7 linked regions of the Homo sapiens genome follow. The protein of the gene in region 1 interacts with the protein of each later gene in a pairwise test. Each region holds a gene or a part of one and is shown on either strand. Other genes may lie near its edges. The genes, in order: HTR2C, TM9SF2, ATP6AP2, SPNS1, GJA1, SLC71A1 and TMEM94.

The links.
Region 2: the proteins of HTR2C (region 1) and TM9SF2 interact in a two-hybrid assay, tested with the Homo sapiens proteins (one large-scale study listed by BioGRID and IntAct).
Region 3: the proteins of HTR2C (region 1) and ATP6AP2 interact in a two-hybrid assay, tested with the Homo sapiens proteins (one large-scale study listed by BioGRID and IntAct).
Region 4: the proteins of HTR2C (region 1) and SPNS1 interact in a two-hybrid assay, tested with the Homo sapiens proteins (one large-scale study listed by BioGRID and IntAct).
Region 5: the proteins of HTR2C (region 1) and GJA1 interact in a two-hybrid assay, tested with the Homo sapiens proteins (one large-scale study listed by BioGRID and IntAct).
Region 6: the proteins of HTR2C (region 1) and SLC71A1 interact in a two-hybrid assay, tested with the Homo sapiens proteins (one large-scale study listed by BioGRID and IntAct).
Region 7: the proteins of HTR2C (region 1) and TMEM94 interact in a two-hybrid assay, tested with the Homo sapiens proteins (one large-scale study listed by BioGRID and IntAct).

Annotation. Positions count from the first base shown.
Region 1 is NC_000023.11:114,730,586-114,734,085, reverse strand, and holds part of HTR2C (5-hydroxytryptamine receptor 2C isoform a precursor), read right to left. Parts: intron 3,465-3,500; exon of another isoform or gene 3,310-3,464; intron 2,793-3,309; coding exon 2,479-2,792; intron 1-2,478. UniProt on the Homo sapiens protein: G-protein coupled receptor for 5-hydroxytryptamine (serotonin).
Region 2 is NC_000013.11:99,560,472-99,564,548, reverse strand, and holds the end of TM9SF2 (transmembrane 9 superfamily member 2 precursor), read right to left. Parts: intron 1,859-4,077; coding exon 1,791-1,858; 3' UTR 501-1,790; downstream 1-500. UniProt on the Homo sapiens protein: In the intracellular compartments, may function as a channel or small molecule transporter.
Region 3 is NC_000023.11:40,583,970-40,587,469, forward strand, and holds part of ATP6AP2 (renin receptor precursor), read left to right. Parts: intron 1-3,500. UniProt on the Homo sapiens protein: Multifunctional protein which functions as a renin, prorenin cellular receptor and is involved in the assembly of the lysosomal proton-transporting V-type ATPase (V-ATPase) and the acidification of the endo-lysosomal system.
Region 4 is NC_000016.10:28,977,778-28,981,277, reverse strand, and holds part of SPNS1 (protein spinster homolog 1), read right to left. Parts: intron 3,371-3,500; coding exon 3,234-3,370; intron 2,124-3,233; coding exon 1,972-2,123; intron 1,874-1,971; coding exon 1,807-1,873; intron 1-1,806. UniProt on the Homo sapiens protein: Plays a critical role in the phospholipid salvage pathway from lysosomes to the cytosol.
Region 5 is NC_000006.12:121,445,646-121,447,936, reverse strand, and holds part of GJA1 (gap junction alpha-1 protein), read right to left. Parts: intron 1,106-2,291; 5' UTR 1,090-1,105; coding exon 1-1,089. UniProt on the Homo sapiens protein: Gap junction protein that acts as a regulator of bladder capacity. A gap junction consists of a cluster of closely packed pairs of transmembrane channels, the connexons, through which materials of low MW diffuse from one cell to a neighboring cell.
Region 6 is NC_000001.11:100,076,095-100,079,594, reverse strand, and holds part of SLC71A1 (hippocampus abundant transcript 1 protein), read right to left. Parts: intron 2,431-3,500; coding exon 2,318-2,430; intron 1,145-2,317; coding exon 1,047-1,144; intron 1-1,046.
Region 7 is NC_000017.11:75,480,635-75,484,134, reverse strand, and holds part of TMEM94 (transmembrane protein 94), read right to left. Parts: intron 1-3,500. UniProt on the Homo sapiens protein: Could function in the uptake of Mg(2+) from the cytosol into the endoplasmic reticulum and regulate intracellular Mg(2+) homeostasis.

The sequences.
Region 1 (3,500 bases):
TAATTTTCCTTCATGCTGTCCTATTTTTTTGACCATTTCTATTCTTAGTTATTAGATTACTACTTCAAAGTACATTTTTTAATACCTTAACATGCTTGTTTGCAGATTTTTTTTGAAGTGTTTTGCTAGCATATTCTTCGGCTTGATCATTCTTTATTGGAGGGAATGTTCATCAAATGCCTTCTTTCTATTCTCATATTCTGATTTTTTTCTATAGTAGCTTGGTATAGATGAAGATTGGTTGCATCTCAGAATTTCTATGAACATGACTGACAGTTTGTAGGTAGCTTCCAAAATTCCAAGCTCAAGAGCATCCTCTTTTCTTTGTGTATCAAAGTATGGTTTCTTTACTGGAGGGCCTTTGGGGGACAGTGGGAGACAGTAGAGGGAGGGGTGATGGGTCCTAATATTTTGACATTTTCTGTACTGTAAGATGATAAATTTCCCCCTCTTGCTTCTTTTTCCTTTCACTGTGCTTTTTTTTTTTCAAGTCACCTCTTGCTTCCTTTTTTACCTTTTTCCACCTCCAAAGAGTTAATTTTCCAAGGCTGCTTTCTTGAGTCTTATGCATACTTTTCAGTACCTTATCTGAAAGCTGACCTTCTAGAGAAACTTTTCAGTATTTTCGTACTTGGGGTAGACTTACTTGCTTGTGGTGGTTTTTTTTTTAAATTTTTTTATGGAGTATTGCTCTGTCGCCCAAGCTAGAGTGCAGTGTTGTGATCTCGAGTTGCTGCAACCTCTGCCTCCCAGGTTCAAGCAATTCTCCTGCCTCAGCCTCCCGAGTAGTTGGGATTACAGGCGCCCACCACCACGCCCGGCTAATTTTTTTGTATTTTCAGCAGAGACTGGGTTTCACCCTGTTAGCCAGGCTGGTTTCAAGCTCCTGACCTCAAGTGATCCGCCAGCCTGGGCCTCCCAAAGTGCTAGGATTACAGGCGTGAGTAACCGCGCCCGGCCACCTGTGGTGGTTTTAGATCAATCTTAGGCTTCCTAATAGCTTTCCTCTAGTTTATTTCATGCTATCTTTCCTGGACTACTCTTCTTCTACGCAACAGCATGGGGTAGAAGTCTAATAGATAGTTCAATGTTATTTCCCATTTGTTTTCCTACTTACAGGTAATTTGAAATTTGAATGTTCTCCACACTTAATGGTGGTATTGTGCAGTTTTATTTGTTTTTTATATTGTTCTTTGTTTATTTGGGCAGGGGAATAGATATGTTAAGAGACTTGGATTTATGCTAATATCATTATTTGGCCACTCACATTTTTTTAAAGGGAGAAGCTGGCGAAACAGACACCACAGAACACAGTATACCTTCTAAATCATAGTTTCACTTCATTCCAGTAATCTTTTCTTAATTTTGGAGCAATAGAGTGGTAAAATGCCCACTGAGCAGATAAAATACTAGTGCTTTAAGGCTAATGCATCATTGAAACTCGATGAAGAATATGAAAAGCATATATTCTGAGAACACTTTATAAAATGCCTATTAAGATAATCTACTGTTGCCATAGGTATAGAACAGGCTACTTAATTTTTACATTACATGAGAGATTATTTTCTAGATGCATTTATTTTCTTTTAGGATTCGACAACTAGATACACTTTCAATATTATTTCTTCTAGTCTAATTCCATTATACACTCCAGGCAACTGGAAGTCTATTTTACTCCTTTGTGAGATAAGCATATTAGCAATTAAATTCAAACTGGGCTCTCCAACTTCCTAGTAAAGATACTTTGTAGAGTTGTATAAACTATTTGATTGTTCATCATAAATATTAGCTAGAAACAAAACCTTAGGTTAAAATGAACAGAATGAAGGGATGGAAGAAAATCAAAAGAAAAATTAAAAACCTCTTTAAAATCAATATATTGAAACTTTCAATGCCTGAATTTTTAAAGTGATGATATGAACTTACACTTATATACTTAGTAATTAATTTTGCTATCTCTTGTCTCTTTGTAATAACACAAATTATAGACTCCATGAACAAGAAGAATAGCTATTATTGAGTGCCTGTTTTGTGTCAACCACTTAGTTTGGCAGCTTTAAAAAAGGATTTCTTAAAATATATTTATTAAAGAGGATGAGCCGGTTTTTCCTTCTTTGTATCAGAGATGGTAGTAGGTATGTGTACTGCCCAGAACACAGGGGTTGAAAGATGTTTCTGTTAATGTCTCATTCAGTACATTGTAAGGCAACTAACTGTTCATTCATTGTTTACAAAGACACTAAGCAAGAGAGCATCTATGTATGATTTTAATATATATAAAATGTATGTTTTGCTTTTGGAAGACTGTTACTGATTTGTTTAATAAATATGATACATACATCCAACTCCTTCTGTCACACGATTTGCTTTTTTCTTTTTCCAAATGTTACAAGTAAAATAATTAACTTTATGAGTGTTTACTATGACACAAATTTATGACATTATACGAGATTGAAAAGTGAATAAAATTGTACTTACCATAAAGGATTGCCAGGAGAGACAGGGGCATGACAAGTAGTCCCACTAGCATATCAGCAATGGCTAGGGACATTAAGAAGTAATTGGTGGCATTGTGCAGTTTCTTTTCCATGCTTACTGCCATGATCACAAGGATGTTGCCACCTATTGTCATGATTATTATGATGACGATTGAAAGTGCTGGCCAGTTTTGTACCCCGTCTGGGAATTTGAAGCGTCCACCATCGGAGGTATTGAAAATGTCAGTTACTATAGCTGCTACTGGGCTCACAGAAATATCAGATTGCCAAACCAATAGGCCAATTAGGTGCACACTGAAAATTAAGAAAAAAAAAAACAATCAGGTACATATTATATTACTTATACACAATACGTTGCTCATGCAAAACAACTGCTTCTTCATGGATCATTGTCATCATTATCATCATCAGCATCATTGTCATCATCATTATTTCTACTCTCTTAATTAATCTCAGTATTTCTTCTTTCTCTCCAAAAATCACCAACTTTTATTGAGTGATTATTATGAGTTAGGCACTTAGTTTGCTGAAACATATATGTATAATCTCATTTGATCTTATTAAACAACCTCATGATGTCAGTTCTAATTTATATCCATCACGTAGATGAGAAGACTGAGTAAAGTTCAGAAAGGGTAAGTAACTTTTTCAAGCCTAAACAGCCAGTAAGTGGCGGGGCCAGGGTCCATACTCAGGTCCCACTGATTTCAAAGTCTATGTTTTAAACTTTTACTGCGATCTGAAACCACAGTACTGCTTGATTTGCTGTAATAGTCTATTCTTTATATTTTTAAAATACTGATTCCTTTAGATATGTTCTGAGACAGCTGATAACAGAATGAAGGGGGATTTTCTTAAAGCATCCATGACCCTAACAAGGAAACTGGAAGTTGCATTCTATTGATCCAAGGCTAAGAAGGAATTAAGTTGCCATCAGATCAAATTCCGGCAAAGCGTCTGGAAGAGGTACAGTGGGTTTTGACAAGAATACCCTTTCATTTC
Region 2 (4,077 bases), on another chromosome or scaffold:
AAGGGTTCTGGAACCAATCTCCCATAAATACTAAGGGACAACTCTACCCATAAAAAATAAATACAAGAGATACATAAAACTGAAAGAAACTCTTCTATCTTAAATATTCCATGTTAAAAATGAACAGAGCTCCTCCTTTACTCTTCAAAACCAACAGGTCCGTTTTTTTAAAAAAGGACAGTGACATAAAATTATTCAGTAAGGCTGGGCGCAGTGGCTCACACCTGTAATCCCAGCACTTTGGGAGGCCGAGGCGGGCAGATCACCTGAGGTCAGGAGTTTGAAACCAGTGTGACCAACATGGAGAAATGCCGTCTCTACTAAAAATACAAAATTAGCCGGGCGTGGTGGCACATGCCTGTAATCCCAGCTACTCAGGAGGCTGAGGCAGGAGAATTGCTTGAACCTGGGAGGCGGAGGTTGTGGTGAGCCGAGATCTCGCCATTGCACTCCAGCCTGGGCAACAAGAAGGAAACTCTGTCTCAAAAAAAAAAAAAAATTATTCAGTAAGAACCCAGCAATATCATATAAGTGACAGCTAGTAATTTTAGTTGTAAGTTTAATGACAGTATCTGATTTGCTCTCCTAAGCAGCAAGCAGAGAGACCCTAAAATACAAATGAATATGCTCACAGATACAAGCAGACCGATACTTCAGAATCACCCCCCATTCCTATATTCTACATAAATGGATTTCAATTAGTCAGATGAATGTGAAAGACAGTGCATTTCTTAACTCTTAGAAGTAAAACTGTTTGTGAAATCTAAATTAAAACAATGAAATCATAAAGATGAAGACTTGCTAGTGATTGCTAATGTCCAGGTAATAAAACCTGACTTAAAACACTGTATTTTGAAAAACAAGTCAAAAATAGAAACTCCTTAATGACAATGTAGTAAGGCTCCACCTTAAGTACTTGCAGATAATTCATCTGTCTAGATATGCATGACTTCAACCTCCTCTACTGCCTCACAGTGAACATTTTAGACAATGCCTTACACAGTGAAATTCCATTCAGATCAAAACTCAGAAAGTGTTACATTAACAAAATCCAGTAAAATCTGATAAAATAGTATAAATCATTTCAAAACACCTTGGTAAATAGATCTGTATTTACAGAACCTCCTTGAATATATAATAGGTAATGATGCAATGAAGACATTTTTATAATATTTATTAAGATAACAAATTTATAAATTGAAAGACTCAGAGGCACATAGTTTAAAAGGCCAATACCATGGGAATAATGAAGTCAACACAGAAAAGTAAGAAGATATGAACAGTTACAACCAATAGAAGATTTTCTTTAAAAGCCACATTCCCCTGGTGAACACATCATAGGAATCATCCTTCAAAATTACCATGATAAAAAGTTATTTCCTTCAAAGAAAAATAATTCTTTCTGCCTACCGAGCCTAGAAAATCCTATTTACAATGCAGTGTCCTGCCTTTCATCAGTATTATTTAATATGGCCTCCTCTATTCTGCCATTAGAAGTATGGAAAATTTTATAGCTACTGTATTTACAAATGCACATAATATTTAAATTTGCTCTTCATTGAGAACAACCAAATATATACTTAATCAAATCACAATACAAATGCTTTATAGTGTTGAAGACACATCTTATGGGGGAAAGGTGTATGGGAAGAGGTTTATTTAGAATTACGGTGTTTCTGAAGGATTACTAGGCCAATAATTCTGATAAAACTCAAGGCAGTCACAAAAACAGGTCTTTGTTGATGAAGAGTTTAATTTATTTCTGTTTTAACTGGACACACTGGACTTCTTCAGTCAACCTTCACCACACTGTATATTTTGGTAACAAACCAAAAGCATGCAAAGAAGCCAATTGTTCCTATAAGAGAAAAAATAAAAATAAACCCCTTTTCAAAGGAAGTTTCATACTTTACACAAAAATACAGACTTACAATGACTGGTTCCTTAAAAAAGTCGCAAAACTATAAACTATTACCCACCGGGAATATACTACAGATCTATGAGCACGTCTGAAAAATATACGACCACCTCAAATCAAGTTTCTTACAAAAATTGGTAGAACTTTTTTCTACTATAAGATTACCTAAGCTTTCTACAATACACATTATTTTCCTTACTACATAGAAAAGACTGAAGGATGTCAACTGTCCTTTCCTATTTAAGAATATTTTACAACAAAATGGAAAACGCTACTAGAATTTTTTAAGGTATGAGATGAATACATTAAAACAGGTTCAAATAATGATTAAATGGGGATATTTTCTAAGTACAGTTATTGGAAGTTATCAGTCTTCAAAGAATTATAATAAAATAACTCAGTAAGTTTTTACAAAATGTTAAAAGTGACATGATTAGATAGTAACAAAAATGCATCCTAGCTGAAAATGAGGGACAGCATGGTAGCAGAGAACAGAGCAGCTCTGTCACAAACTGTGTGTGTCATCCTTGGGCAAGTCCACTGACATCTCCAAGCCCATTTATCATATTAACTAGGGAGAAATTTATCTGTCCTCATTGCCTCCATAGACTATTATGTAGAGTAAATGAGATAATTCATGAAAACAATGTATGGCTTGATTTTCAGGTATCAGTCTAGATTCCAAAGAATTTGAATGCTAGATGGGGACACTCTTTCAATGAGACAAAAATGAGGTTCAAAGGGGTTAAGTGACTGTCTCATGGTCACATGGATGGTACTTGTGGCCAGAAATCAAATGCGTTTTTTCTGACTTCAAGCATAGTACTCCTTGCACATGCACACATAAGGGACTATAAATAATCCTTGTATAAATTTTACATTTAAAGTCCCAATAGTTTTCACCATTGTTTTAAATGCAGTACTCTGAGAAAATATTAAAGGAGATTTTCTAAATCAAGAGACTATACATGGGACATTACCGTGGGAAATTACAAACATCATTATATCCATCCTTACATTGTACATGTATTGAGGCCCTACTATATGCAAAGCACAATGTGTGTTTTGGAGGACATACAAATATACCTTTTGCATAGTCAAAAGGATAATTATTCAGGCTAGGGCTGGGGTTAATTTCAGAAAAGCAATAATGAAAACTCAGTATATTTATATAACTTTGTACTTACTTGCATAAATTTCAAGATGACAAACAATATTTTAAGATGAGAAGAACATTTAATCACTATCCAGGCAACTCTAAGAAACTTAAGTTTAGTTACTTAATTTTGTTCTTAATATGGAATATATGTACGTACTAAAAGTGGCGTCTTTCCTTTTGTGACAGAATAATTACTTCTGTTTTGTAAAATGGATTGACTTAAATACAATAAAATGGCATTGCTCTGGAGTACTGAAGCAAATACAGACCATACCCTATTTTAGAGAAAGGTAAGGCATTTAAAGGGCTCACTACTCCCTTATCCAGAATGCTTCCACCTGTTCACTAAAGGAAAAATACAATTGAAGAAAGTGAAATACACTATAAGTTACTGGTTTAACTGGTTGGTTCCATTTGATATGACTCCATAATTCAGATTACAAAATTCAACTCTGAATGAATGAAAATATAACACTTTAAAAAACAAAATCAGCTGGGCGCAGTGGCTCACGCCCAATCCGAGCACTTCGGGAGGCCAAGGCGGGCAGATCGTCTGAGGTCAGGGGTTCGAGACCATCCTGGCTAACATGGTGAAACCCCATCTCTACTAAAAATAAAAAAAATTAGCCGGGCGCAGTGGCGGGCGCCTGTAGTCCCAGCTACTCGGGAGGCTGAGGCAGGAGAATGGCGTGAACCTGGGAGGCAGAGTTTGCAGTGAGCTGAGATCGCGCCACTGCACTCCAGCCTGGGCAAAAGAGTGAGACTCCGTCTCAAAAAAATAAAAATAAAATAAATAAAAATAAATAAAATTTAGGTGATGGTTAAGCTATCATTTTCTGTATCATATGTCTGGAAAAACAACAGATATTCACAATGATCGTTATTTTTTGTGTGTAGGCTAGGAATAAATTATTCTGTATATGCATTTATGGACACACAGGGCACAAAAACAGTCATTCCTTGTTTCACTGGCTACTGCTGTTTTATAGATGATTTATTA
Region 3 (3,500 bases), about 74 Mb from region 1:
AGGAAAGCAGTAAGAGTCAAGAATGGAGCCCTCAGATCTCCAAAGTGGAGTATGCTAGGTGATCCATTTGGATGCCAGATGAATGTACTAGAAATTCCATTTATATCCTTTTTGTTTTTGTTTTTGAGACAGGGTCTCACTCCGTCACCCAGGCTGGAGTGCACTGGTGTGATCACAGCTCACTGCAGCCTCGACCACCCAGGCTCAAGCGATTCTCCCACCTCAGCCTCCCTAGTAGCTGGGACCACAGGCGCATGCCACCATACCCAGCTAATTTTTTGTTTGTTTTTGTAGAGATGAGGTCTCAAACTCTTGGGCTCAAGTGATCCTCCTCCTCAGCCTCCCAAAGTGCTGGGATTACACGCAGGTGTGAGCCATCGCACCCAGCCTCTATCTTTTTTTTTTTTTTTTTCCTTTTTTGAGACAGAGTCTTGCTCTGTCACCCAGGCTGAAGTGCAGTGGCACGATCTCGGCTCACTACAACCTCCGCCTCTGGGGTTCAAGTGATTCTTGTCCCTCAGCCTCCCAAGTAGCTGGGACTACTCTTGTTGCCCAGGCTGGAATGCAATGGCATGATCTTGGCTCACTGCAAGCTCCACCTTCCGGGTTCAAGTGATTCTCCTGCCTCAGTCTCCCGAGTAGCTAGGATTACAGGCATGCACCACCATGCCTGGCTAATTTTGTATTTTTTTAGTGGAGACGGGGTTTCTCCATGTTGGTCAGGCTGGTCTTGAACTCCCAACCTCAGGTGCTCTGCCTCTTGAGTAGCTGGGACTACAGGCATGCACCACCACATCTGTCTAACTTGTGTATTTTTTTGGTAGAGACGGGGTTTCACTATGTTCACCAGACTGGTCTCAAACTCCTGACCTCAAATGATCTGCCTGCCTCAGCCTCTGAAAGTGCTGGGATTACAGGCATGAGCCACCACACCTGGCCTCATTTTTGTATTTTTAGTAGAGATGAGGTTTCGCCATTATGGCCAGGCTGGTCTTGAACTCTTGGCCTCAAGTGATCCGCCTGTCTTGGCCTCCCAAAGTGCTGGGATTACAGGTGTGAGCCATCATGCCTGGCCTATTTTTATCTTATCTCTTTTTGAATAATAATGGTCAGGTATTTTGTAGACTGTCCCTCAATTTGGGTTTATCTGATGTTTTCTCATTATTAGATTGGGAAAAATACTACACAGGTATCTCATCCTTTTAAAAACTTTTATTTTTGTATGCTTTGTAATATAGCACAAATCAAATACATAATCTATTACTATAGTAGAAGTATATACTTTACATGGAGAGGATGAGAGGGACAGAGAGAAGAAAGAAGGGCTACTTTCCAATTTTGGGCTGACAGGGTTGAAATCTAAAAAGTTTGGCTACCACTGCTTTAAAGGACAGGAAGGGAAAGAAACAGAGGAGAAGCAGCCAAAGGGATTGCAAGGAAAACCAGGAGCCGTGGCTGCATGAAGACCAAAGCAGGGGCTTTTCAAGGAGGGAGTTGCCAGTATCAAATGCTTTGGGAAGTTAGATAAAATTAAGGGATGGAAATTGCCTTTTGAGTTTGGGGAGTCGTTTCAGTGGCATGGTGGGCTTGGAAGGTGTGGGCGGCCAGGTGGGGTGGCTCACGCCTGTAATCCCAGCACTTTGGGAGGCCGAGGCAGGCGGATTGTTTGAGGTCAGGAGTTCGAGACCAGTCTGGCCAACGTAGTGAAACCCTGTCTCTACCAAAAAAATACACAAGTTAGCCAGACGTGGTGGTGCGTGCCTGTAGTCCCAGCCACTCAGGAGTCTGAGGCAGGAGAATCTCTTGAACCTGGGAGGTGGAGGTTGCGGTGAGCTGAGATCCTTACCACTGCACTCCAACCTGGGTGACAGCAAGACCCTGTCTCAAAAAATAAAAATAAAAAAAATTTTTAAAATTTTGTGGGTTAAGTAGTAAACTTAAAATGAAGTATAGAAGCAAACGGTGGTTGACTGCTCTTCCTGGATTCTTCCTCTGAAGGGGAGCAAGGCTGGTAGCTGGTGGAGACTGGTAGGACCAAAGGAGGTTTTTTATGGTTTTAGTTATAGAATGGGAGTGCCTTGAGCGTATTTTTATGCTGAAGTGAAAGGGCCAGTGGAGAGGGAAAAAACTGGTGGTTTGAAGTGTGACTTCATTCATTCATTAACTCAACAAGTACTTATTGAGCACCAATGTGTCGGGCTCTGTTCTCAGCCCTGGGGATAGTGTGTGAACAAGACGCACTGAAATCCCCGCCTTCATGGAGCTTGTATTCTATAGGGCCATCTTTTGATGGCTATTACCATATAGCCACCTCACTCCTGATGTGTTGTCTGTCCTAGAAGAGTGGCTTCCTTAACAAACAGTGAAGGAACAAAGGTCCCTAAAAAGACTGAACACAGGATTGTCTTAGTCTGGAGGAGGGACATCCCTGCCCTCATGTCTGGAGGGAGAGGAGTTACAGATAGGGGCTTATGCAGATAAATTTGTGGTGGGGAGAGGAAGCAGGTAGCTCAAGAAATTCCTCTGTTTTCTCTGTGAAGCTGGAGATGAGGTTATCTGGTGAGACTGAGTTGGGGAGTGATAGCATAGGAAGTTGAAAGTTAGGAAGCCCATTTCAGTTCAGTACAAGGAAAAACTTTTCAAAGGACTAGAATGTTAGGAAAATGGAGCCAGTTGCTGGCAAATGTAGTTCGTATATTGAGGTGGTGTCCCCATCACTGGTAGTATTGAAATAGAGGAGGGGTGACTTTCTGCCAGGTATCCCTGAGACATGCTTATACTTATAATAAGCAGAAGTTTGGACAAATGACCTTCCTCTGTATAGGAGTCCCTGACTCTAAGGTTTTCTAAAGCTCTGGGCTTCTGAAGGACTGTTGTACAGGCATGGAAGTTGAAACTACGAAGCTGGGGCAAAGTTATTTGGTATAGGTTTGCCAGAATTGAATGAGTAGGGCCGTGTCTCAAAACAAGGGTATCTCCAAATCAAAATATGGTTTTTTAAATGTGTATGGTACCTGGGGCTGGGCGCGGTGGCTCACGCCTGTAATCCCAGCACATAGGGAGGCTGAGGCGGGCCGATCACTTGAGGTCAGGAGTTTGAGACCAGCTTGGCTAACATGGTGTCACCCTGTCTCTACTGAAAATACAAAATTTAGCCAGGCATGGTGGCACACACCTGTAATCCCAGCTACTTGGGAGGCTGAGGCAGGAGAATTGCTTGAACCTGGCAGGCAGAGGTTGCAGTGAGCCAATATTGTGCCACTGCACTCCAGCCTAGGCGACAGTGTGAGACTCTGTCTCAAAACAAACAAACAAAATATGTGTATGGTTCTTGGGAAGCATAGGTCTCTTGGTTCCCCATTTTTCTTAGTGTTTGCAGTACTACTACTTTAGTGAACCAAGATATCTATCAGTTACAAAAGACCATTCCATTCTGCTAATTTTTTTGGTCTGTCTTCAGCTAGAGCAGTTTGGACATTCCTGTTCTGACAGCTGTGCCG
Region 4 (3,500 bases), on another chromosome or scaffold:
AGCTTTGTCTCCTCTTTGGTAATTTTCTTTTGGGAAACCAGTACCCCTACTTCTCTCAATCCACTTGGTTTAAATAGGATCCCAGGCTTGGCCAACAAGAGGACTGTTAACCACCCCAGCCTCGGTGACGGATTCCGCAGAGGGCACGTGATGCATGTTCATCTAGTCAGACGCTATCCTGGAAACACGGCCCCAGGGTCCAAGGTGCCAATGTTGCTAAATGGAAAGGTAATCATCTGGAGTTCTCACGTCCTTAAGAATGATGTTAACACAAAGGAAAGTAAAGCTCAGAAGAGAAGGGCAGTGTGGGAGCCCTGGATCCAGCTTTACCTGACTGAAGCTCACCTGGGACTTTCAGGAAGAAAGCCAAGACAGCCCCTTTAGGGGGCTTACGGTTTGTTTGTTTGTTTGTTTGTTTGTTTTCGAGACAGAGTCTCACTCTGTCACCCAGGCTGGAGTGCAGTGGTGCGATCTCGGCTCACTGCAACCTCCGCCTACTGGGTTCACGCCATTCTCCTGCCTCGGCCTCCTGAGTAGCTGGGACTACAGGCACCTGCCACCACGCCCAGCTAATTTTTTTTTGTATTTTTAGTAGAGACGGGATTTCACTGTGTTAGCCAGGGTGGTCTCAATCTCCTGACCTTGTGATCCACCCACCTTGGCCTCCCAAAGTGCTGGAATTACAGGTGTGAGCCACCGCACCCGGCCTCTAGGGGGCTTACAGTTTTACAATGGGCTTCTGTCACCTGCACGCAAGAATTCTGTCTAGCACATGGCTTCCAGGTGAGGGCAGCCAGTCTCCTGCAGGCTCAGCAGAATGAGAGCTGCCCCAAAAAAGGGGTATTTGGAGCCAGGCGCATGGCTCACACCCGTAAGCCCAGCACTTTAGGAGGCCAAGGCAAGAGGATTGCTTGAGGCCAGGAGTTCAAAACCAACCTGGGCAACATACAAAGACCCCATCTCTACAAAAAAAAAAAATTTTGTGTGTGCAATGGCACGATCTCTGCTCACTGCAACCTCTGCCTCCCGGGTTCAAGCGATTCTCCTGCCTCAGCCTCCCGAGTAGCTGAGATTACAGGCATGCGTCACCATGCCTGGCTAATTATGTATTTTTAGTAGAGACAGGGTTTCACCATGTTGGTCAAGCTGGCCTAGAACTCCTGACCTCAGGTGATCCGCCCACCTCAGCCTCCCAAAGTGCTGGGATTATAGGCGTGAGCCATCATGCCTGGCAAAATTTTTTTTTTTTTTTTTTGAGAAGGAGTCTCGCACTGTCGCCCAGGCTAGAGTGCAGTGGCACAATCTCAGCTTGCTGCAACCTCCGCCTCCTGGGTTCAAGTGATTCTCCTACCTCAGCCCCCCGAGTAGCTGGGATTACAGGCATGCACCACCACGCCCAGCTAATTTTTGTATTTTTAGTAGAGACAGGGTTTCACCATGTTGGCCAGGCTGGTCTTGAATTCCTGACCTCAAGTGATCCACCTGCCTCAGCCTCCCAAAATGCTGGGATACAGGTGTTAGCCACCACACCCAGCCTACAAAAAGAAAAAGTTTTTTTAATTAGCCAGGCATGGTGGCGGGCACCTATAGTCCCAGCTACTTGGGAGGCTGAGGTGGGAGGATCACTTGAGCTCAGGCGTTCCAGGCTACAGTGAGCTATGACTGCACCACTGCACTGCAGCCTGGGTGACACAACAAGACCCTGTCTCTTAAAAGAAAAATGGGCGGTGGGAAGGGGTCCAAAGGTAGGAAACAGGGATCAGTGAGAACGTCGCTGACCTACCCCCAGGCCAAGACCAGACTCACCCTCAGAGCCCAGTGCCAGTCTCCAGCCATATCCTTCACTTTGGAGCCTGCAATGTAGCCCAGACCACTGTGGGAGGGAGAGAGGGGAAAAAGGGGGGACAGCCAGTCAGTCCAGTCCCCCACACCAGGCCCTTCTGCCTTCCCCCAGGCCCCAGGCCCACTCACCTGCCCACCGGAATGGCAAAGTAGAAGATGCTGAGCATCCGGCTCCGCTGGTCGGCCACAAAGAGGTCGGCAATGAGAGTGGGCGCGATGGTGGAATAACTGGCCTCCCCGACCCCCACCAGGCCCCGGGTCAGGAGGAGCAGCCAGAAATGCTGGGGAGAGAGACCGGGGAGAGGTGGCACCCCAGCCTGCAACCAGCCTCCGGGCTACCTCACCAGCCCGCTCCCAAGAGGCAGCAGGGATGGCGGGAGATGCCTGGGTTTTAGAATCACACAGACCTGAGCTTGCATCCTGGCTCCACCACTTACTAGCTGCGATTTGGGGAAAATAACTTAACCTCTCTGAGCCTCAGTTTCCTCATCTGCAAAAGGAGGATAACAACAACTTTTCACAGAGCTATTGCAAGGACTAGACAATAAAAGGTCTAAATAAGACAACCCCTGCTTGCCTGGTAGGGGAAAGTTTTTTAATTTTTTTTTTTTAATGAATAAGTGACCTTAGATGGGAGTTTATGTGTCTACCAAAGGCACCTGAAGCTAAGGACGGGTACAGTCACCCAAGGAAAGTACGTAGGTCCTGGGGCTGAGGACAGAGTTCTGGGGTGGAGTGAGAACAGACAGAGGAGGCTTCAAAGGAACAAAGAAGCAACAGCCAGGGAGGCAGGAGGAAAGCCAGAAGAGTGTGGCATCGCAAAGGTAGGAGAGAGTTTCAGGAAGGAAGAGTGGGTCAACAGTGCCAGAGGCTCCTAGCATGAACAGGACCAGGAAGTTGGAGCTGTGTTTAGCAACTAGGAGGCCACTGTTAACTTTGGCAAGAGCAGGGTCCGTGGAGTGGTGGGAGCAGAAGTCAGTGGCAGCGCTCGAGGGGTGAGCAGGCGTGAGGAAGTGCAGGCAGAGTGATGGCATCTCCCCGGCTGCTCTTTTACCCACACTGGCACCACGCTCTAGGGGCCCTTCAGGAAGTCTGATCAGGAATGAGAGGAGGGAGAGAGGGCAGGCCAGGTAGGGTTTGGAGTGTTTAGGTATGGAGTAGAAGGAGTCAGTGGTCAGGGGAAGAGGGGATAATGGACAGAGAATGCTCTGGAAGAAAAGGGGAGGATGGGGTGGGGCAGGTTAACTCAGGCAAGGAGGGGTATAAAATGGCATGGACCAGGGAAACTGCAGGAGTCCCTGAGGCCCAGTCTGCCATAGCTCCAAGGAGCAGCAGCAGAGACTGACAGGGAGGGGGTGTGGGCAGAAACAGGAGCCAGCTTGGGGCCTCACCTCTCCGGGGATGAAGGATGACCCCAGTGTCACCAGGGACCAGAAGGCAATGCCCCCGCACATGAGATACTTCCGATTGTACCTGTCACCCAGGTAGCCAAACACAGGTGCCAACACCATGTAACTGGAGATGAACACTAGGGGGAAGCAGAGAGTCACAGCTCAGCCCAGGTACCCCTACCTCCCACTCCCACCCCAGCTGGAACCACTAAAGCACAGGAGATGCCTGCCTTCTCCTTACAGAATTCACAACACCCCCACATCCCA
Region 5 (2,291 bases), on another chromosome or scaffold:
AGGTCGCTGGTCCACAATGGCTAGTGGCTGTAATTCATGTCCAGCAGCTAGTTTTTTAGAATTCTGGTTATCATCGGGGAAATCAAAAGGCTGTGCATGGGAGTTAGAGATGGTGCTTCCCGCCTGCCCCATTCGATTTTGTTCTGCACTGTAATTAGCCCAGTTTTGCTCACTTGCTTGCTTGTTGTAATTGCGGCAAGAAGAATTGTTTCTGTCGCCAGTAACCAGCTTGTACCCAGGAGGAGACATAGGCGAGAGGGGAGCGGTTGGTGAGGAGCAGCCATTGAAATAAGCATATTTTTGAGACCCACAGTCTTTGGCAGGGCTCAGCGCACCACTGGTCGCATGGTAAGGGTCGCTCTTTCCCTTAACCCGATCCTTAACGCCCTTGAAGAAAACATAGAAGAGTTCAATGATATTCAAGGCCAGGGACACCAAGGACACCACCAGCATGAAGATGATGAAGATGGTTTTCTCCGTGGGGCGAGAGAGGAAACAGTCCACCTGATGTGGGCAGGGATCTCTTTTGCAAGTGTAAACAGCACTCAAGCTGAATCCATAGATGTACCACTGGATCAGCAAGAAGGCCACCTCAAAGATAGACTTGAAGAGGATACTGATGATGTAGGTTCGCAGCAACCCCCCTCGCATTTTCACCTTACCATGCTCTTCAATACCGTACTTGAACTTCTTTATCTCAATCTGCTTCAAGTGCATGTCCACATTGACACCATCAGTTTGGGCAACCTTGAGTTCTTCCTCTTTCTTGTTCAGTTTCTCTTCCTTTCGCATCACATAGAACACATGAGCCAGGTACAAGAGTGTGGGTACAGACACAAATATGATCTGCAGGACCCAGAAGCGCACATGAGAGATTGGGAAAGACTTGTCATAGCAGACATTTTCACAACCAGGTTGCTGAGTGTTACAACGAAAGGCAGACTGCTCATCTCCCCAGGCTGACTCAACCGCTGTCCCCAGCAGCAGGATTCGGAAAATGAAAAGTACTGACAGCCACACCTTCCCTCCAGCAGTTGAGTAGGCTTGAACCTTGTCAAGGAGTTTGCCTAAGGCGCTCCAGTCACCCATGTTGCCTGGGCACCACCTGAAAGAAACAAAGAGACAATTCAAGGATCACAGATTGCAAATTACTAGTTTAACATTTAGTACCTTTCAGGTGATAGTCAAAATACTACCAACGGTTTCACGTATTTCTAACATTCTTTCACAAAAAACCAAGTGCAAACTCTTCCTGTCCCATTTTTGCCAACGAAGAAAAGATCTAACAAGTGTTTTGTTTTGTTTGTTGAGACAAAGTAAGTCTTAGAAGCAACAGATGATGAGTTGCAGTCTTTAACCTGGGAAGGTGTATTGCTTGCTCAACCACTGCCTTGCTGTGTGACTTGAGAAGCCACCTGTGCTAAGCCTCTGCTCCTTTTATTTGTCTGATAAATGAGGACAGTTTTTGCCTGGTAGATCTGTGTTTGCTAAGCAAAATCCTGATGTGTGTTATTCAAAGCATAGGTATCAAGAATCCAGGTAAGAATACCTATAAACACACATCCATAACCTTCTTTCCAAAACCTTAATGCTATTATATATCATTTTATTACTAATTTCACTCTGAAAGATTTTTTTTTTAAGATGGTGTTTCCCTCTTGTTGCCCAGGCTGGAGTGCAATGGCACAATCTCAGCTCACCACAACTTCCGCCTCTTAGGTTCCAGCGATTCTCCTGCCTCAGCCTCCTAAGTAGCTGGGATTACAGGCATGTGCCATCACGCCTGGCTAATTTTGTATTTTTAGTAGAGATGAGGTTTCTCCATGTTGCTCAGGCTGGTCTCGAACTCCTGACCTCAGGTGATCCATCTACCTCAGCCTCCCAAAGTGCTGGGATTACAGGTGTGAGCCACCACGCCTGGCCTCTGGAAGATTTTTCAATGGTATATCAAGTGTAATTTGTGCATACCCTATATTATTGTCATTTACACTTTTCTGTTTCTTTTTTTAGAGATAGGATTTCACTATGTTGCCCAGGCCCCTGGGCTCAAGAAATCCTCCTGCCTTAGCCTCCCAAGCAATGGTGACTATTTTTTTCTTAAGCAGTGACTTATGTAGCTCAGAAGTCAGCCTTCTGTCCAGAGAAAAAGTAGGCTGTATGGAAATATACTCTTTTGCTACAATGTGTCATTATATGTAGTAACCTACTTTGAAAAACAAAGACTAAATACACATCACACTTCATGTAAAAAGTTCATTTTGTCTCAATACTACTCACAGCCTTATTAAAAA
Region 6 (3,500 bases), on another chromosome or scaffold:
ACACTGTTTTAACAGCATTTGATTTTTGTTTCTCTCTTTTGGATCTTTAATTTAAAATGCAACTTGCTTTGGCCATAGGCCTTTCCTTCCTCATTTATCAACCAAGTGACAACTGCCACTGTTTTGCAGTGCCCCTTTTATCCTTATGACTAGACAAAACATATCCTTTTCAAAGAAGTATTTGTCATCTGTTAGCATCCCAAGAATTAAATGTTCCCACCAAAAAAAAAAAAGAGAGCATATGACATTAAAGATGTTGCTGTGTTACATATCTTCAGATGACTGAAACTATATGATTTCTTTTTTTTTTTTTATTAGAGATGGGAGTCTTGCTGTGTTGCCTAAGCTAGCTTCAAACTCTTGAGCTCAAGTAATCCTCCTGCCTCAGCTTCCCAAGTGGCTGGGACAACATTCATAAAAGGTCTATGAATATATCCCACAAGGTGTCTAGCACAACACAGCAAAAACTTAATGCTTAGTTAATATTCTGTGGCCAACATTCATCAGTAAATTTTTTTGAGACAGGTCTCTCAAGGTCTCTCACTGTGTCGCCCAGGTTGGAGTTCACTGGCCTGATTTTGGCTCAGTGCAACCTCCGCCTCTGAGACTCAAGTGATCCTCCAACCTCAGCCTCCCAAGTAACTGGGACTACAAGCATGCGCCACCCTGCCCAGCTAATTTTTGCATTTTAGTGATGGGGTTTCCCCATGTTGCCCAGGCTGGTCTCCAACTCCTGAACTCAAGCAATCTGCCTGCCTCGGCCTCTCAAAGTGTTGGGATTACAGGTGTGAGCCACCATGCCCAGCCTCATCAGTAAATTTTCTATGAACAGAACAGATAAGCCACATATTCTAAGTGAGAGAAAAGGGAATATGTATCTACCTAAGGATAAATACCCTAGAATCTGCTTTTCCTGTTTATATCAAAAGCAATTTTAAAAGTCTCTACCCTGAAGATATACTTATGTTTCAGTACATAGGAGACAGAACACAGGATTAGAACATTCTGTACTTTTAAATAATTATCGCTAGTTCCTATCAACTCACCCTGTTGATCAGCATCAGCAGTTCGTGAAACAAGTGCACTGACAGCAGGAAAGGTGATGCTAGACATGGCTGCTACTGCCCCAGCAGCCCACATCATCCTATAAGGAGAGCAGCAAAACAAAAACAGTAAATTCTTCTCCACTGTACCTGAAAGTCAAACTACATAATTAAGTAATTCTTACTGTGAAATGGCTGTAGAGAAAAGGAGAACTGAACTTGCTTACTAGGTGACTATGGGCAAGTCGCTTAACAATCTGACCCTGTATACAAAGACAGCAACTTAATTCACAAGAGTGCTGTGAGGGTGTAATGTAAAATAGGGATATCATGTTCCAAACTGTAAAATGTGCTGGGTATTATTTCTACAGGCAATTGAGAGGTTATATTGAGGATAATGTATAATATAGATGACGAAACATCATCAAATATTTCCAAACACATGAAGCCAACAAGTCTTTGGCAAAGTTCTTATGGATGGATTTGTGAAGATATCGCTGATTTGATCTAATCCTTAAATTGTAAAGAACAAGTAACTTGGATGTTCCTGGCTTGATGTTTAAAAGAAATGTTTTAGGTAATTTCAATTGTGAGCACCTCTTTGCAAAGGCTAGTTTGGAGAACAAATCATCACCCTCTTGATGCTTGCTTATATCCAAGTCCAAACAGAGACGAGGCAGTCAGTTGTTTGAAATATTAGTGCAAACCATGGAGTTCAGTGCCATAATGCCTGAGCACAATAATACTATCTACGTGGGCAGCCTGACAACAAGCGTCACTACTCAAGTCCCCTGCAGGAAACCCGACTGGTCAGAAAAGCTGAGACACAGCATGAAGCTGGCACCAAAATAACTGGATTGTTTTCACTTCTGGTTTGCTATCAGTAATGATCACTGGTTATACAACTTTCTTTTTCCTGACCAGAAAAACAAAAAATGTAAATAACTTTCAGGGCCTTGTTGCTATGGGATTACATACTTTTTCCTAGTAACGGACTGATTTAGATTAAATGCTCCTTAAAGATTCAAAAGCTGTATAATCTCATTCAAAAATTCAGCCTGTCATTTAGCTATAAAAGGTCACCTTTTTAATCCTCAAGCCATTCTAGGAGAACATATAAATATACAAGTGGCAGACTTATATTAGACACATTTTGAAAGATAAAAAGCATAGTATGAGACAGATTACAGTCTACCCCTCAGTTGAGAAGCAAATAAAAACACAAGGGCTAACACCAAAATTAAAAATATTAACATTAAAATATTTATACTTACCAAGGTTCTGAACCAAAGCCATACCATGCCAACTGTAATATTTGAAATCCTAGACCCAGTAAAATGGTGTTCTTATTTCCAATTGACCTCATAAGTAAACTCAAGACTATGGTCTGAAAAAAAAAAAAAAAGATTTATCAGAATAAAGTTTTAAAAAGTGACTTCTTTCAATCTACACTATAAAAGGACTATTGGCACTTTTCTACAATTTGGCTGATTTTCAGCAATAATTGCCCTGAATATGTCTGAGATCACTAGTCCAGGTCACATAAGCAGATGAAAAGTCCCTCTGCTGACATAGATCCAGACTGAGAGTTAGAAAACTGAAAGATAAAACTTCCTATTCAGTACATTTCTACTGAGGACCACTTAAATCAGTAGTTGAAAATGGAAGGGTCAAAAGTTCTAACTAATGATTTGGAGATCCCCATTACATAATAGCCTTAAAGCTTGTTTAGGTCCAAGTTAGTCTAAAATGCTTATTTCCACAACTAAAGAAAAACTAACAGAACAATGATTACCCATATATTATTTACCTAAGTTAATCTGTTGTTGAAACCATGATGCCTTTTATAAACAGTAAATTAATAAGCTTGATTTGGGATAAATGCAGTATACTATACAGCAGACTTTAGAAAAACAGCCTGGATCATAATCTTGGCTTTGTGTGGCTCTCAGCAAGTCACTTCACTTTGAGCCTCACTTTTGTCTCTTTGCAAATGGGGATAACAGCACCTATTTCAAAACCTTGTCATGGGAATTAAATGAGATATATTTACATAAAGTTCTTAGAATTGTGCCTGGCAATAATCAGCGGTTAATAAACAATATTATCAGTGGGTGGGTTTTCTTGTGCCTCCTTTTTCTTTCAAAGTCAACAAAGTTCAGCAGTGATTTGGGAACATTAGAAAATTTTTTTTTGCTATTCTAACTAACGTTTTTAATATACTACATAAGATAGCTAGTAAGTCCATAGACAAGTAAAAATAATTCAGGAAATCACTATTTTATGATGGGCTGACACTTTAAAACTCATAAAATATAAGTTTTGAATTCTTTAAATTGAGATGGCCACTTAAGAATTTAATCACAAATATGCCAGTGAAAAGCAAATGATTCATTCAAGGATTTTTGAGCAATTAGAACTCACAGCTTTCTTGTCTAAGACTTTCACTTAAATCAC
Region 7 (3,500 bases), on another chromosome or scaffold:
AGGATGAATGGGACAAGGTGTGGACAGTGTAGGCCCCGACGACGCAGGGACCAACCACATCATCTTAGGCGACCTTGTGGCCCAGCCTTTCCCTGTCAGGACTCCCCCATTCCTGGCTTCTCTCCTGTTTTCTCCGTTGACTCTGACTGTTCTTCCCCATCCGTCTACCCCATAGGCCACCTAGGACACGTTACCAACCTCTGTAGGTTTCCAGAGCAACCTCATCCACAGTCACAGAGTCACCTGCCACCAACAAGCCTACAACTCCTATTTTACTTCAAGTCTGACCGCTACCCTGAATGTGGACCCGTCTGCTGAACGGGCCTACAGCTGCTTCACAGGGACCTAGGAGTCAATGTGTCCAAAAACCTGAACTCGGGCCGAACTCACGCCTGTAATCCCAGCACTTTGGGAAGCTGAGATGGGTGCACTACTTGAGGTCAGGCATTTGAGACCAGCCTGGCCAGGCCAACATGGTGAAACCCCATCCCTACTAAAAATACAAAAATTAGCTGGGCATGGTGGTGCATGCATGTAATCCCAGCTGCTTGGGTGGCTGAGGCATGAGAATCACTTGAACCGGGAGGCAGAGGTTGCAGTGAGCCAAGATCACGCCACTGCACTCCAGCCTGGGTGACAGAGCTAGACTCTGTCTCAAAAAAAAAAAAAAAGAAAAGAAAAAAACTTGAACTTGCCACCTGGCTCTACTGCCAGAGTCACCTTTCCTCTCACAGTGACTGTCTCACCCAATCACCTCTAGAACATTCTTGACCCTGGCCTTATGCTTGCCCAAACTCCACCCCACACTGTCTCTAACTTTTCCAAACCCACTGGAACACCTTGGCCAGAGCAGGGCCTGCCTGGTTGGTCAAATGACCTATTTACCCTTAAAATCAAGTCCGATTCTTGTGTGTGCTCCTGGAGACCCTTCAGATGTGCCAGCCTCCCTGGCCTCCTTTCCTGCTCCTCCTGACACGAGCCGAGCCCCTTCAGCTCATGTTCACATACTTGATGTGTTTCCCAGCGAGAATCACGTGCCCCACCCCAGTCAACTCTTGCTTCTCCTTCAAGACTCAGCTCAAACATCACCTCCTCTGGGACATTTTCCCAAAACCCAGGGCTGCACTTCAGGGGAGGTTTACATGTCAATGGTGTCCTGGGCAACCTGGCCTGCAGCCTGCACCTTACAGAACTGTAATCACAGATTGACACAGCTGGCTCTCCCGCCAGACTGCAAATTCCTTAAAAACAGGCTCTGAATTCTTCCATTTCCACACACCCTCACCATCCAACTGCTGAGACAGTGCATGGCACACACAAGCTCAGTGAATACTTGCTGAATGAATGAATGAATAAATGAATGAATGAATGAATGCAATGATCCCAATGAAACAGCAACAGGAACAACCCGAGGCATTCCGCAGCTTAGTCAAGGCTTCACCTTAATCGGGACTGTCAGCCCAAAATCTTAGACACCACAGCTTTTAAAAATGTGGTGGATGTCTAGGCTCCACTCCGGACCTACTGAACCAAAATTTCTGGGGATGAAGGGAATTCCAGGTTATACATACATACATACATACATACATACATACATACATACATACATATATATATATTTTTAAATTGAGACAGGGTCTTGCTCTGCTGCCCAGGCTGGATGCAGTGGCGTGGGCATGGTTCGCTGCAGCTTACACCTCTCAGGCTCCAGCGATCTTCCTGCCTCAGCCTATGGAGTGGCTGGGACTACACTCAGCTAATTTTCTTTGCTTTTTTTTTTTTCTTTTTTGAGACAGAGTCTCGTTCTGTTGCCCAGGCTGGAGTGCAGTGGCGCAATCTCAGCTCACTGCAACTTCTGCCTCCTGGGTTCAAGAAATTCTCCTGCCTCAGCCTCCCGAGCAGCTGGGACTACAGGCACATGCTGCCACGCCCGGCTAATTTTTTTTTATATTTTAGTAGAGACCGAGTTTCACCATGTTGCCCAGGCTGGTCTCGAGCTCCTGAGCTCAGGCAATCTGCCCGCCTTGGCCTCCCAAAGTGTTAGGATTATAGGCCTGAGCCACTGTGCCTGGCCCTTTGCATTTTTTTGTAGAGATGGGGCCTCGATATGTTGCCCAGGCTGGTCTTAAACTCCTGACCTCAAGCAATCCTCCCTCCTCAGCCTGCTAAAGTGCTGTGATTATAGGCGTGAGCCACCACACCCCAGCTCTGAGGCCCTGGGACAAAGAAGAGCCCCATGAAAGGCAGCGCCTGAAGGAGAAGTGAGTCTTTCCAGGACCACCTGCGAAGCATCCATGTGAGCTTCCCTCTGGAAAACCTCCTGAGCAAGAGGAGTGAATCCCTAGACCTCAGGCACCAGGAAAGGGATTTGGGGCAGCCATGGAGGAGGCTCAGCCACAGGCTGTGGGGCTGGTGACCCCTGGCTGCCTCGTCTCACTGCTCTCCCCACCCTCTATGCGGCCCACAGTTCTGTCTCCCAGAGTCCTGCCCTGGCTGTGCCCTCTGGCCTTCTGGGCTTACTCCTTCCTGCCTGTCTCCACACATACCCCCTCCTCGGCAACTGAGCCTCAGCCCTGGCAGGGCACACATCCCATAAGTAAGAGTGGCTCCTGGGCCCAGGGATGCTGCCCCCTGCCACAGCCTGGCATCACAGGAGGCACTCAAGTGGAGCCCCCAGTGCTGGCCTGAGGGACGGGGCCTGGCCCCAGGATTCCCCAGCTCCCTTCCCTAAATCTCACCTAATCCCGCTCTCCACAGTGGCTTTGGGGGATTATAAAGATAAGAGCCGCCTCTTCCCAGAGGGGATAAACTGGTTATTTCAGCTCAGAAAGAAATGGCCCTCCCGGCGGGGACCTCACACCCCCACATGGGTAAATACTGTGCTCCAACGCACCCACCTCCCTTTGGCAAGGATCCTGAGGCCTCCCAAAGAGGCCATGGTCCAGGGCAAATGAATGCCTGTACCTGTCCTACTGCCTCCCGGAGCTCCTGACATGGAGGGAAGGAAAGCTTCAGGGAGGGTTGTAAGGGAGGAAGAGAAACAGGAAGAGGAGACCATAGGCCTTCTCCTGTCTGTGGGCATGGACGTCTGTTCCTCCCACCCCAGGGAAGAAGAGGATCTAGGAGACAGGCGGCTGCACACAGAGACCCCAGGCCTCCAGTGTCTTCCCCTCAGGCTCAGCCTTCTGAGCTTCCTCGCCACAGAGAGGAATGTGAGTGTTCCCAGGACAGAATGGCCCATACCTGGGCCAGGCCTCCAGACATGATCAAGTGAGAAACACACTGAAGGCAGGAAAAGCTGGCCTGCATAGGGGGAAGGCTGTCCACCCAAGAGATGGAGACTGGGAGGGAGAAAGAGAGGAAGGACCAGGCAACTGTACACAGCTGGGAAGATGCTCGGCCTAGAATGAGGACCACACTCAGGAAGGTGACAGTTTCCAGCAAGGCAGAGAAAAGGCTAAGAGGAGTAGTCAGAGAGCCAGGGAGGTGTCCCTCCTTTG